Homo sapiens: one gene and its partners. The protein of the gene in region 2 purifies or fractionates together with the protein of the main gene of each other region. This does not show direct contact. Each region holds a gene or a part of one and is shown on either strand. Other genes may lie near its edges.

Region 1 (3,500 bases), on a different chromosome or scaffold from region 2:
GTAAACAAGACGGGCTTGGTGCTCTCATGGAACTGACATTGTAAACAGGGAAGATGGACAATAAGCAAGCCAACAAGGTAAGTTCACATGTGATAGTGCTCTGAGAAAAAGGAAGCTGGGGAAGAAATAGCGACCAGACAGGCAGGAGAGGTGGCACTTGAGATGAGGTGGTCAGGGGAGTCTTCTGAGGAGGTGACCTTGGGGCAGAGGCCTGAATGAGGAGGAGGCAGCCGCATGATGATGTGGGAAGATTGGGCGAGGCCATGGCGTAGTCAGGGAAGAGGCCCTGTGAGGAGAAGCAGCTTGGCTGAGGGTGGTGGGTTGGGCTGAGCTGACAAGGTCGCTGGGATCTGCACTCCCACAATGAGGAGGCTGGACCCCAAGGAGTTGGAGCTGCCCACCTGGACCCCAAGGAGGTGGAGCTGCCCGCCTGGACCTCTGGCTCTCTCCACCATTCTGTCCACTAGCCTGGCCTCTCCTGGAGTCAGCACACACACATGCACACACACAGACACACACGCACACACACATAAACACACATGCATGTACACACACCCTTCAGCAGTATGTGCCAGAGAGGCTGGAAAGTAGTTTCAGTTCTACACACTGGCTGGAAAACGACAACTGACAGGTGAGATGAGGAGTTTCTGGAGTGGAGAAATGTTCCTGAATACTTTGAGGGCTGACGTCAAAGGGGCCAAACTGCTCAGTGTTTGTAGTTAACTGAGAAAGAGCCAGCTTGAGGCAGGGGAATAGCCTCTTTCTCTGTCTGCAGAGGAAGCGCAAGGACCATGTGCCCAAGAGAAAGGCAAAGGGCCTCCCCCAACATCCATCCTGGCCAGCCTGGCTCCGGGCTTGGAAGCAGGTGAGAGCCACTCACGGTCTCAGCTCAGGGACTTGGGATGCCCAGCAACTCTGCCCACCAACTAACTGGTATGAGGCAGTTCATTCCTTTACTCTGGCTTGGGGTTTTGTCACTGTATTCTTTTTAATTTTTTTGAGACAGTCTTGCTGTGTCGCACAGGCAGGAGTGCAGTGGTGCAATCTCGGCTCACTGCAACCTCCGCCTCCTGGGTTCAAGCGATTCTCCTGCCTCAGCTTCCCAAGTAGCTGTAGCTGGGATTAAAAGAGTGTACCACCATGCCTGGCTATTTTTTTGTTTTTTGTTGTTGTGTTTTTTTTTGAGATGGAGTCTCGCTCTGTCGCCAGGCTGGAGTGCAGTGGCACAATCTCGGCTCACTGCAACCTCCGCCTCCTGGGTTCAAGCAATTCTCCTGCCTCAGCCTCCTGAGTAGCTGGGATTACAGGCGTGAGCCACTGTGCCTGGCTGAATTTTATTTTCTGTAGAGACGAAGTCTTGCTTTGTTGCCCCTGCTAGTCTTGAACTCCTGGCCTCAAGCAATCTTCCTGCCTTAACCTCCCAAAGTGCTGAGATTACAGGTGTGAGCCACTGTGCCACCATGCCTGGCAGGAATATATTAGTGATCACAATATGTGTGGAAAGGTTAAATTTTCCCCATTATAAACAAAGGCTCAGTTTGGATAAAAAATAAAAATGTGGGAATATGCTGTCAACAAAAAGACCCATCTAAAATAGAAAGGCACTGGTTTTTAACCCCTTTCACAATCACATCTTCCTGGGAGGGATTGGAGCCCAGAGATCCCCATCATTTACCATGTGATCTTAGGCATGTTGACCTCCAGACCTTAGTTTCCTTATCTGTAAAGTGGGATAATGTTCCCAGGGCTCTGCGGAGAACACTGTAACAATGCATGTGGGAGGGATAATGATTTGCTTAATCAGCCATTTACACTTTAGTATGAATGTGTTTCACATCCTTTCCTGAGACTGTTTAGATCAGGAGAGGTGGGGAAAAGCTCAAGAGCATCTGGGAGGGAAAGTCAAGGAGTGAGGGTCAGGGGCCAGCCTTTATCTGCAGGCTGTCCACTGAATGTCCTGTGGCCTGGGTGGGGCCCTGGCTATCCAACCCTGAGATCAAAAGAAGTCCAGTCTCCCAGGCCCAGACACAGCTTCTTGGGGCCAGTGATGTTGACTTGTGGCTCTAGGTGACACAAGAAATGGGGGAGGAAGTGATTGCAATAGCAGAGGGTGAGGAAATCCTGGGCGTCATTCTTGTTTTATCGAGAAACAGGATGAACAGAGGCCAGATCTGCTCAACCCTCCTTCAGTAAGCAGTCATTGAAACAACTTGTGCTGGCCAGGTGCGGTGGCTCACGCCTGTAATGCCAGCACTTTGGGAAGCTGAGGCGGGCGGATCACCTGAGGTCAAGGAGTTTGAGACCAGCCTGGCTAACATGGCGAAACCCCATTTCTACTAAAAATACAAATACAAAAAAAAAAAAATTAGCTGGGCGTGGTGGCGCATGACTGTAATCCCAGCTGCTTGGGAGGCTGAGGCCAGAGAATCACTTGAACCCAGGAGGCAGAGGTTGCAGTGAGCCGAGATTGCACCATTGCACTCCAGCTTGGGCACAGAGCGAAACTCTGTCTCAAAAAAAAAAAAAAAAAAAAGAAACTACTGTGCCAGGCCGTGTTGGGTTCGCATGAGAAGTCTACTCCATCTCACCTGTTTCTTTGGATTCCTTTCTCTTTATTACACTGTGAAGTTTTTTGCCACTTCAGCCTCCTTTGGTCGGAAACTGAGTCTAGGTTTCGGTCAATCACCTCAGCAAGCAGGACCACTCCCAGCTGCTTGAGCCACACCTTGGATCCAGAATCACCAGCAAATATACCTACCAGAGGAGGTCAGCCCGATCTGAAGTGGCGTTCCTTTTTCCCTGGTCTAGTACTCTTATACTCACTTCCACATGTAGTCCCCAGGTTTTTGCTGTTTTTGTTTTGTTTTGTTTTGGAGACAGAGTCTTGCTCTGTCACCCAGGCTGCAGTGCAGTGGCATGATCATGGCTCACTGCAGCCTCCACCTCCTGGGCTCAGGCGATCCTCTCACCTTAGCCTCCTGAGTAGCTGGGACCACAGGTACATGACCCCACACCCGACGAATTTTCTAAATTTTGTGTAGAGATGAGGTCCGCCTATGTAGCCCAGGCTGGTCTTGAACTCCTGGCCTCAAAGAATCATCTTACCTTGGCCTCCCAAAGTACTGGGATTACAGGCATGAACCACTGCACCCGGGCTTTGCTGGTATTGCTTAGCAAGGTTTTCCAGCTCATTTGGTGTGTAAGCCTTTTCCATCCAGGTCAGACTTTTTTCTTTTTTTTTTTTTTTAATTTTCCAAGAAATTCCAGGACAGGTCAGATTTTCATATGTAGTTATATTTCCCTGCAGCATGAGAGGATATGGCTCTAGTTAATGGGCTTAGAAAAGTGACATAGCCCAGGTCACACAGCTCCTAAGTGGCTCAGAGCCTGAGCACTTAACCCATACCCTCTCCCGCCTTTGCTTTAAAACAAGCCCCCTCATTAGAATGCCTGAGCTCTAATGTTGTGGCTGCCCATCCAATGTGGGGAGGAGGACGGGG
Region 2 (3,500 bases):
TGAAGGCTACCTTCTTTTGGAAAGGTGGGGACCAGTATGAAGGCAACCAAAGCCCTCTATGCTGGAGTTTTCAATTGTTCCAAACACATAGAAATCATAAATCCCCAAAGCGGTGGGCACCTCAAATACCCTGATTTGATCACTACACATTCTATGAATGTAACAAAATATCACATGTTTCCCAGAAAGGTGTAAAAATATTTTGTATCAATAAAAAAATTTAACTTAAAAAGACCTCTATGCAAGTGAATTCTTAAACTTTTTTTAAGTTCTTGAAAGTGATGAAACATGAATAGTTTCCATGGGAAACAAGGCTAAAACATTTTGCATCCATCTGAGGAGGTTCAAAGATTCCTCCTCGATTCCATCTTATCTCCAGATTTAAAAAACTCTGTTCTGGATTTTTATGTCTTCAATGAAACAGCTTACCTTTTAAAAAAAAACTGAAAAAAAAAAAAAACTAGCTAGAAGAGGCTAAGAAACACTTAATTTTCACATTAACCTTTTTGAAAGAAAAGAGTTTCCAGCATTCTACCTGCTCTAGTTTCAGAGTTTCTGCATACGCAGAAACTAGGTTTTGTTTTTTATTAACTTGTAAGTGAAGAACAAAGAAAAGGTGGCATGGGTTGAGCTGACCGAAAGTGGAAGTTTAAATAAGTTATAATTATGACCAAACAAAACAGTATTTATTTATTTTTTTTTTTTTTTTTAGATGGAGTCTCACTCTGTCACCCAGGCTGGAGTGCAGTGGCACGATCTCGACTCACTGCAACCTCCGCCTCCCGGGTTCAAGCGATTCTCCTGCCTCAGCCTCCAGAGTAGCTGGGATTACAGACGCTGGCAACCACGGCCGGCTAATTTTTGTATTTTTAGAAGAGATGGGGTTTCACCATGTTGGCCAGGCTCCTGACCTCAGGCGATCCACCCGCCTGGGCCTCCCAGAGTGCTGGGATTACAGGCATGAGCCACCACGCCCAGTCCCAATAAATCCTACTCTTCTAACTGGCCTTGCTTCAATTCCGCCACCCAGCGGCTAAGTTTCTAGCTAGAGTTTGCATTTATTTAGTGAACTCAATGTGCTGGGTGCTCTGAACACTCACCTGCTGGGTTGTATATTTAATCCTACAACAACTCAGTAGTGATAGATAGTATTATCCCTGCTCTGCCGATCAGGGAGCTGAGTCTAATCAGCTGGTGAGTATGTGATCCAACCCTAGCCATACCTCCCTGTGGTTACTTCTAGGAACTCCAGGAATGAACCTGATAAGCATGTCATCTTTGGCTGGTTAAAAGCAGTTACAACAGCGTGGCCAAGAACAATAGAGCTGATGTCGCAAAGGCTGGTTTTGAGCCTCTTACCTTCTGAACTCACTCCGATCTCCCACCTGCATGAGCGCAACAATAGTGTTGGTGATTGACGTTCCAATGTTGGCCCCCATGATAATGGGGATGGCAGCCCGAACAGTGAGCACTAGAGGATGGAAAAGTACCATTAGCAAGCTTAGAAAGGCAGCCTGGAGGCAGGCTAAAGTTACCTATGCTGGTATCCTCTAAAGAAGTAGTTTTTATCCTCTATGCAAGTGAATTCTTAAACTTTTTTTTTGCACCTCACTCTGCACCTCACTATGAATCTGAAGAAAGTGCCTTTCTAGCTTCCTCCTTCCTCCCTATTGCAGATCCAAGGCTAGCCTGAAGGAGACCAGGAGGCACCCACTGATTAAGGACTTAGGTGGATGAGTGCAGGGCTTGCATGTACAGTTGAGTCAGTTGTGCATGGCACACAGGCTCGCCTTTAAGGAAGCATCAGTTTTTTTTCTTTTCTTTTTTATTTTTATTTTTTGAGATGGATCTCGCTCTGTCTCCCAGGCTGGAGAGCAGTGGCTCGATCTCAGCTCACTGCAACCTCTACCTCCCAGGTTAAAGTGATTCTCTTGCCTCAGCCTCCTGAGTAGCTGAGACTGGAGGCATGCACCACCACATCCAGCTAATTTTTGTATTTTTAGTAGAGACGGGGTTTCACCGTGTTGGTCAGGCTGGTCTCAGATTCCCAACCTCAGGTGAGCCTCCCACCTCAGCCTCCCAGAGTGCTGGGATTATAGGCGTGAGCCACTAGGCCCAGCCAGGAAGCATCATTTCTGTGCTGGATATCAGACATTTAATTCTAGGCAGTGTAACTTTTTCCAACAAAATCAGCATATTGCTGCACCTTTTTTGATATAAACAAGTAAAATATTTTGAAAGTGTAATACCTTTTTCTAACTGGACGAGAAACATTCTAGTTAATTTTGGCTAAGATGCTAGCTTGGGAAGAAAAATAGTTCTGGTCAGGGGCTGTGGCTCAGGCCTGTAATCCCAGCATTTTGGGAGGATCACTTGAGCCCAGAAGTTTGAGACCAGCCTGGGCAACACAGTGAGACCCAAGTCTCTATTTAAAAAGAAAATAGAAAAAAAAATAATAATAATCAGTTCAAACTGGTCCCCCTCAGAGGGTCTGTCCAACGTAGCTGCAGCAATTATCAGACAGGTACAAGTTTAGTGTGCCATCTCCCAAGCTCGGTTGTCCCAGAGCAATTTGTGATGTGATTAAGTTGTCTTTCTTCTTAGCACTGAGAGTGGCCCTGTCCCAGAGAACTAACTTTCTGCAGTGAAGGAAATGTTCTATGTCTCTACTTCTCAATAGGGTAGCTGCCAGCCAGCCACATGTGGCTCTTTAACACTTGAAATGTAACTAGTACAACTGAGGAACTGAATGTTATATTTTAATTTTAAATCAATTAAGGTTCAACAAAATTAAACTGCCACATGTGGCTAGTGGCTACAGGTCTGGAAAGTACAGTACTAGAGAATTCAGAGCTGAGAACTCCAGCAGCAGGGTCTATTTCCAGATCCTGCCATCGAAATGGAAACAGGAAGTTGCCTTGGATCAAGAGGGAAACACATTGTAGCTGGGGCAAGATACCAAGACAATGGTGGCAAGGCCTGGACATATTCAGAGTGAATTCCTCCCCCGTCCTTCCCACCCTCAGATAGACAGGAGAGTGTCTGGAATGCAGGTGGGCTCATGGGTGCCCCGACTCACATGAAGAGGACACCATGCTGACAACGATGGACGTTGAGGTGCTGGAGCTCTGCACCAAGACGGTCACCAGCACCCCGATCACCAGCCCCAACAAAGGGTTGGACATAATAGAGCTGTTGCTGAAGAACTGTCCTGCCATTTTTCCTGGGAAAAACAAACAAACAAACAAAAACAATCACAACGTGATCGAGGGGGATTAGGTGGGCACTGAGTAAACAGAAGTCTCCATCCAAGGCCAGCTGGCTGTGGGTTGCAGAGTCCAGCCTCCATCGCTGCAGGCACCCAAGGAATCTTGCTTCCCCATGCCTCTTCCCAGTGCTGCCCCGATAAGGCAGGAAATCTACTAGCTGCCCACACGTGCCTCCTGTCTCTGTCTCTCTGCCCTGGTTCCCGACCCACTGTGAGCCCCTGGTTACTTTTG
Region 3 (3,500 bases), on a different chromosome or scaffold from region 2:
TTTCGGCCGTGATTCAGGACCATGCTACCTGTTGCCAACATCACCTGAGTCTGGGGACCATCTGGACACTTCTGGCTAGCAGATGTGACAACTTTGCCACCTACCAGTATGAGTCCAACTCAGGAAGCTGAAGGCCATCTTCTGCTGGAATTGCTGGAAGAGCTGCCACCCCTAGGACTTGCAGCCCAAGAGGGACTGACCAGGGCCACACCATGTCTGAGGATTAGAGTTCTGACTAGGCTCCTTACCCTCATGGAATTAATGATGGAGAGCCAGGCAGGTAACACCTGTGTGTTAGGTCTGATATGAAAGGGGTCTGGAGTCTGTTATGAATTGCCATTCATATGCCTTGTTAAAAGGGACCACTGCCACTCAGCTCCAATCCACAAGCAGGTCAACCGGCCCCACATGGCCAGGGGCCACCCACCTGCAACCTCCGAGCAACATGACAGATTCTGTTTTTCTAGGCAGGGCTGGAGGGCTTATTATTTCTTTTTTTTGTTTGTTTTGAGATGGAGTCTCGCTCTGTCACCCAGGCTAGAGTGCAGTGGCGCCATCTCAGCTCACTGCAAGCTCCGCCTCCCGCGTTCACGCCATTCTCCTGCCTCAGCCTCCCAAGTAGCTGGGACTACAGGCGCCCACCACCACGCCTGGCTAATTTTTTGTATTTTTAGTAGAGACGGGGTTTCACCGTGTTAGCCAGGATGGTCTCATCTAGTGACCTCGTGATCCTCCCGCCTCGGCCTCCCAAAGTGCTGGGATTACAGGCGTGAGCCAAGGGCTTATTATTATTTCTAAAACCATGACTACGGAAAAAAGGTGGCCTTAGGATTAATCAGCAGAAGTGGGCACAAAACTCTTTATGGCAAACAAAGTTGGGAATTCATGAATGTTAAGGCTGTGCTAGTTTGGAGACTGTGACATAGAGGACAGCAGCCAGGAGTTCAGGGCCTGGGGGGTCATCCTGTGGCTCCTTGGTTGAATCACTTTCTTTGCTGAGGAGGAGGCCAAACCAGCATCCCTGACTCCACATCACTGAAAGTGAGGGACTTCTCAGCCCATGTGCCCTGGGGGTGGGGTGGGGGACTAAGAAGTTTGGGGGGAGGGCACTCACATTGTCCCTTTGGTCAAAGTCAACGGAGCTGGAGACAGAGGTGAGACGCTCATACCGGTCATGGCTGTCCCCGTGCATAGCTGAAGCCACACTGGGGGTGAGGGAGATGAGAGATCAGAGAGCCTGGTGAGTCTGAGCCCCCGGGAAGCTGGGCTGAGTGCTCCAGAGCTCCAGGGCTACAGAAGGCACAGAAGGCACAGGAAGCGCAGAGGCTGAAGCAGAGAGGAATGACTGCCCTCTACCCTGCTTCCCTCAAATATGCCTCTTCCTTTCAGGGGGACTCAGGGTGGGAGCGGAGGTGGGCACTGATGGTGGGCAGTGGGGACTTGAGGGAGGAGGTAATCTTCATCATCTCCCTAAGGAGGCTGAAGCGAGAATGCCAGAGGGCCCTGCAGTTCCAGAGTTGACTGGCAGGGGCCGGGGGCGGGCAACGGAGCCAACATTATGCAAAGAGCAATGAGGAGGTGGAGGAAAGGATGGACCAGGAGAACCTGGAAGGGCTGGGGAGACTGGAAGGTCTCCTGGGTGGGACCCTACCCTCCGCTCCCCTCCCTCTTCCCTGACTCCAACAGCTGTTACAACTCCAACTCCAATCCTATAGACAGAGATGACAAAGTGACAAAAAAGCCCAGACTGGGGGGCTCCTTGGGCAGCCCTCCTCCCAGGCCTCCAGAAGAGGTGAGCAGGGAACCCTGGAATATGAAGAACTAGCTGTTAGCGGACAAGAAGCTGCTGGTGACACCCAATCTTGTCTCTACGTGATTGTGCTGAGGATTTCCTGGAGGACAGCCCCTCCCCTCCAGCCAACAAGGGCTGCATAGGCAGGGGCACACAGGGAGGGACTTCTCCCAGGCAGGGAGCCAGAGGGAGAGATGAAGGGGAGGTGAGGCAGAGACAAGCTGGGGAGCCCCCTGCTCTGCAAAGCACACCGCCTGCGTTAATCCGAAACATGAGCCTGCAGAGGAGAAAACTGCAAAAAGAAACCAGCAACTTGGCAGGAAGAGAAGAGAAGCGTGAGAGAAGAAAAGGGAAAGCTGGTTTAGTGGGAATGAGGGGGCTGGTGCCCCACATACTATTCCTGTTCCACTCGGTCCCTCTCCTGCCGCCGAAGCCTGGGGACAGAGAACAGACAGGGTTAGCAGGGGCGGGGGAGAGTCCCTGGGGACAGGTGAGGAACAGGGGCCCAACTTAGGGCCCTCATGCCCCCATGCCCACATTGGGGCTAGTCCCTTCTCATCCCCCCAGCAAAGGGGAATGAGAGAGGGCTGGCTCCTTCCTATTCCTGAGGAGTGTGGAACAAGATGTGTGTGTGGAGAGCTAGAGGGAGGGTCCCAGACCCTTACCTGTCTGCATCTGTCACCAAGGCCAGCCGCCCATAGTCCCAGGCCACCTTCCGGAGGATAGAGAATAAGAACAGCAGTGCCTGAGGGAAGAGGGGGCAGTTGGCAAGTGCAGAGGCTGTCTGTCCACCTGCTGGACTAGGGGGCAGAAGCAGAGGGTCCAAAATCTTGTCTTAGAAGGGGATGACCCTGGCTTGGGTGAATGGTCAAAGGCGAGGCTTGGGCTGGATGATGGGGACTCCTCCTGCTTAAGCCTGGGAAACCGGGGCAGGTGGGAGAGTGGTTAGAGCTGGAAGTGTTTGCCAGGTGTGTACAGGGCATGGATGCCAAGGTAAGGGGTGGCAGCAGGCACTTACAAGGAAGCACATGAAGTCGAGAGCCAGCACGGTGGGGACGCCCCCAAAGGGCAGGCCCTGCAGGACAGTGCTGCGGATGCGGGCGCTGTAGCAGTAGTCCTTGGGGTTGCTGTTGTTGAGGGCTGTGGTGCCCAGTGTGGCCAGCAGAAAGGGCAGCATGGCTGCTACTGCCGCATGGTCCTCCTGGGCAGAGGGTGGAGCAGTCAGCTGGGCTTGCCCCCATCCCCTTCATGGCCCAGTAGGGTGGGCGTGGGGAGGGGGCAGTGAGGACAGATCACCAGGCTGCCTGGGTGGATGGAAGCTCTGGCCTCTGGAGATAAGGGCCTAGGGAGGGGAGAGTTGAGTCACATGGATTTACCTTCACTGGCTCTCTGGCTATGACCCCACCCTGGGTCTGGGGAACTCAGTCTAGATGCCAGGCCTGGACTGGGGAGGCTGGTTTCATTAAGCTGGAAGGTATCTGTGATTTTCTAACATCTATCTAAATCCCCCCTGCCGCCGCCACCCCCACACTCTCATTCTCTCTGTCTTAGGGCAGGGGGCGGAGCTGAGCCTGGGAAGACAGGGAGGGGTCTTAGGCCTGAGGACTCAAGGGTAAGATGAGGGGTCTCCACGTCAGGGGAGAATGGGTCAGGAGCCAGCTGCCTCATCCTGATCTTTTCTTTCTATGCCTATTAGAAAAAATGGCAT
Region 4 (2,417 bases), on a different chromosome or scaffold from region 2:
ATGACACTACAAAATCACAACAATGCATTAGAAATGGTAACTGATGTCAACTCTTAGAACAATAGTTGGCAAAGTGATTCCATTTCCCCCCACCTTTTTATTGAAAAAAAAAATCTTGAAATGTACACAAATGGTACCTAAGGTATATTGGTGGTGGGAGGGAATTACAAATGTATGCAAAGCTAAAAACAAAACAAATGTTATCTTTTAAGCTACGTTAAATTATTGGTTATATCTTTGATATGTGGAGCATATTAAAGCATGCTGGATAATGTTAATAACTTTGACTTAAAAAGGATATGTAAGAAAATTTCCAGCATATACACATACCAGTAATTGGCATGTTCCAAAAAAAGAAAAACTGCATTTTATCATAAAAAATATCTACATACGTTCAGCCTTCAGTAAAATTATTAACTATTCTTAGAATTACACATTCATAGTTTTTACCTTTTCTTCAAATACTGTTTGCTCCAGAAAATAATTTTTAAAAGCATAAATAATCTGCTACCATATTAGTCTATAATGAAATATCTGATTTACTACACTAACCATTTTCACCAATGAGGCTGTATAAAAAACAACTTTTATTATTCACAATCAAGTATTCATGTGCATACATAGAGATTCAAGGTTTCCTATTTGTTCAGATTATTGTAAAACCCTTATCAACTTGCATGGAAATTTTGGCCAAACGATCATACCATTTAAAATGGAAGGGCAAAAGCAGCAGTAGCAGGAACTTTTGGATTGTATGTGCTACTATTGAAACGAACAAAGAGGAAACCTAGGATGAATCTTCATTGAGAACATATATGTACTTTTCAAAAAATAAATGTGTCAAATCTGATTTATGTACTTAAAATATCTGTACATAGGTTATCAGGCGAAAGCATGAATCTGTATAAAATTCATTAATTCTCATTTCACCATTTATCTAACCCCAATCATTCAGCATTTACATTGCACAGTATATTCAGAGTAGTTTAACAACATTTTAAAGATGACTTAAGTGCATTTACACTGCAAGGTTCAGATTCTTACATAACAATATCACTCAGTTAACTTTTCAATGACTACACTCTACAGTAAGAGAAAAAACAACTGAAAAGTTAAAATAGCAGCAGCATCATGCAAAATACCCTTGGTAAACCAAAGTTCATTTATCACAAGAAAAACATTTCCCCCTCCCCCCTGACAAGCTTTTCTTAGAGCATTTTTAAATATCTGGCTAGCACTACATAACTGTACTGTGAACAAAAGGAACATTACATCAAAGCATTTATTAAGGGCTTGCTTACATTTATGAGGAAATATGTCACATATTCTAATTTCTCCCTCAAGCACCTTTAGTTTAATAATTTCTTAGTTACTATTTTCAAACCATCAATTCATTACCCCATCAAAATTGAATTGGTCATCAATTGTGTTTTATTTTTGGCAAAGAAGCCGTTCTTCATAAGGCATTTTATTCATGGCAAATTTTTCATAGAAAATTAGCCATTATTTATATTTCAACAATTTAGACCAATGTTAATTCTCTCTTTCTCTATATATTTCAATAATTGCTACTTAAAGCAGGAATTAACTTTTCACAGAAGAAAAAGTGAAGGCAAAAATAATTTCTTTCCCCTTAGAGATTTTCTTAGTAAAATTGCAGCAAGTCAAAATTCCAGGTCAATATCAAGACATTTCTTATGGTTCATTAACAATTGTATGGGGAACCCTTTCACATGTAATCACCAACAATGCAACAACAAACTCCCAAATTTTCCAATAGAGGACACGTATAGGATTTTGCTTTGATGTTACACATAGATGATGCAGCATTCACACACGTTTAAGGATCTGACACCCTGACATGCAGCCAGTGGGTGCCTTAGGAGTCTGCGCCTTAGTGTTATGCCATGGAACAGGCCCAGCTAATGTTTGTCTGATTTTATAGCTGACCCTACGTTACTGTAATTGAGGGCAGGGCTCATGTTTTGGCAGGGTCTGGAGTTTAACTATGCAGATTTGGTTTTTAGAAGGTCATAACAGGCGGTGTGTGCTGCCAGATACCAGCCAAAGTAGTAGAAACTGGATTCCAATGATATACCACAGGGAGGGATTTAATCCAGAAACACCACCACAGTCAGTATAATCCTCCTGTTGTTAAAAAAAAAAGAAAAGAACAGAAAAAGAAAAATCTAAAAATCTTGAAAAATATTTAGTAACACATCTTTCAGAGTAATCCATATTTAGTTCACTTTCTGAACTTACCTTATAAAACTGCTGTAATTGAAATCCAAAGAAATTACTTTCTCCTAGATTTTATCATTGAGGAATTTCCCTAGCATCATTTGACAAATGCTTTAAATTTTTAGTTGTAGCTTTTGATGATTATGAAAGAAAATAATAAATGCTGTTTGAATAAT

What was found.
Region 1: the proteins of SLC34A2 (region 2) and SMPDL3B purify together in Homo sapiens (affinity purification with mass spectrometry; one large-scale study listed by BioGRID and IntAct). This does not show direct contact.
Region 3: the proteins of SLC34A2 (region 2) and TMEM63B purify together in Homo sapiens (affinity purification with mass spectrometry; 2 studies listed by BioGRID and IntAct, with this or other methods). This does not show direct contact.
Region 4: the proteins of SLC34A2 (region 2) and CACNA2D1 purify together in Homo sapiens (affinity purification with mass spectrometry; 2 studies listed by BioGRID and IntAct, with this or other methods). This does not show direct contact.

What each region holds. Positions count from the first base shown.
Region 1 is NC_000001.11:27,941,500-27,944,999, forward strand, and holds part of SMPDL3B (acid sphingomyelinase-like phosphodiesterase 3b isoform 1 precursor), read left to right. Parts: intron 1-775; coding exon of another isoform or gene 776-865; intron 866-3,500. UniProt on the Homo sapiens protein: Lipid-modulating phosphodiesterase. Active on the surface of macrophages and dendritic cells and strongly influences macrophage lipid composition and membrane fluidity. Acts as a negative regulator of Toll-like receptor signaling.
Region 2 is NC_000004.12:25,665,851-25,669,350, reverse strand, and holds part of SLC34A2 (sodium-dependent phosphate transport protein 2B), read right to left. Parts: intron 3,224-3,500; coding exon 3,080-3,223; intron 1,472-3,079; coding exon 1,360-1,471; intron 1-1,359. UniProt on the Homo sapiens protein: Involved in actively transporting phosphate into cells via Na(+) cotransport.
Region 3 is NC_000006.12:44,134,054-44,137,553, reverse strand, and holds part of TMEM63B (mechanosensitive cation channel TMEM63B), read right to left. Parts: intron 3,135-3,500; exon of another isoform or gene 2,994-3,134; coding exon of another isoform or gene 2,970-2,993; coding exon 2,811-2,969; intron 2,538-2,810; coding exon 2,458-2,537; intron 2,227-2,457; coding exon 2,188-2,226; intron 1,206-2,187; coding exon 1,115-1,205; intron 1-1,114. UniProt on the Homo sapiens protein: Mechanosensitive cation channel with low conductance and high activation threshold. Osmosensitive cation channel preferentially activated by hypotonic stress.
Region 4 is NC_000007.14:81,948,361-81,950,777, forward strand, and holds part of CACNA2D1 (voltage-dependent calcium channel subunit alpha-2/delta-1 isoform 1 preproprotein), read right to left. Parts: intron 2,149-2,417; coding exon 2,032-2,148; 3' UTR 1-2,031. UniProt on the Homo sapiens protein: The alpha-2/delta subunit of voltage-dependent calcium channels regulates calcium current density and activation/inactivation kinetics of the calcium channel. Plays an important role in excitation-contraction coupling.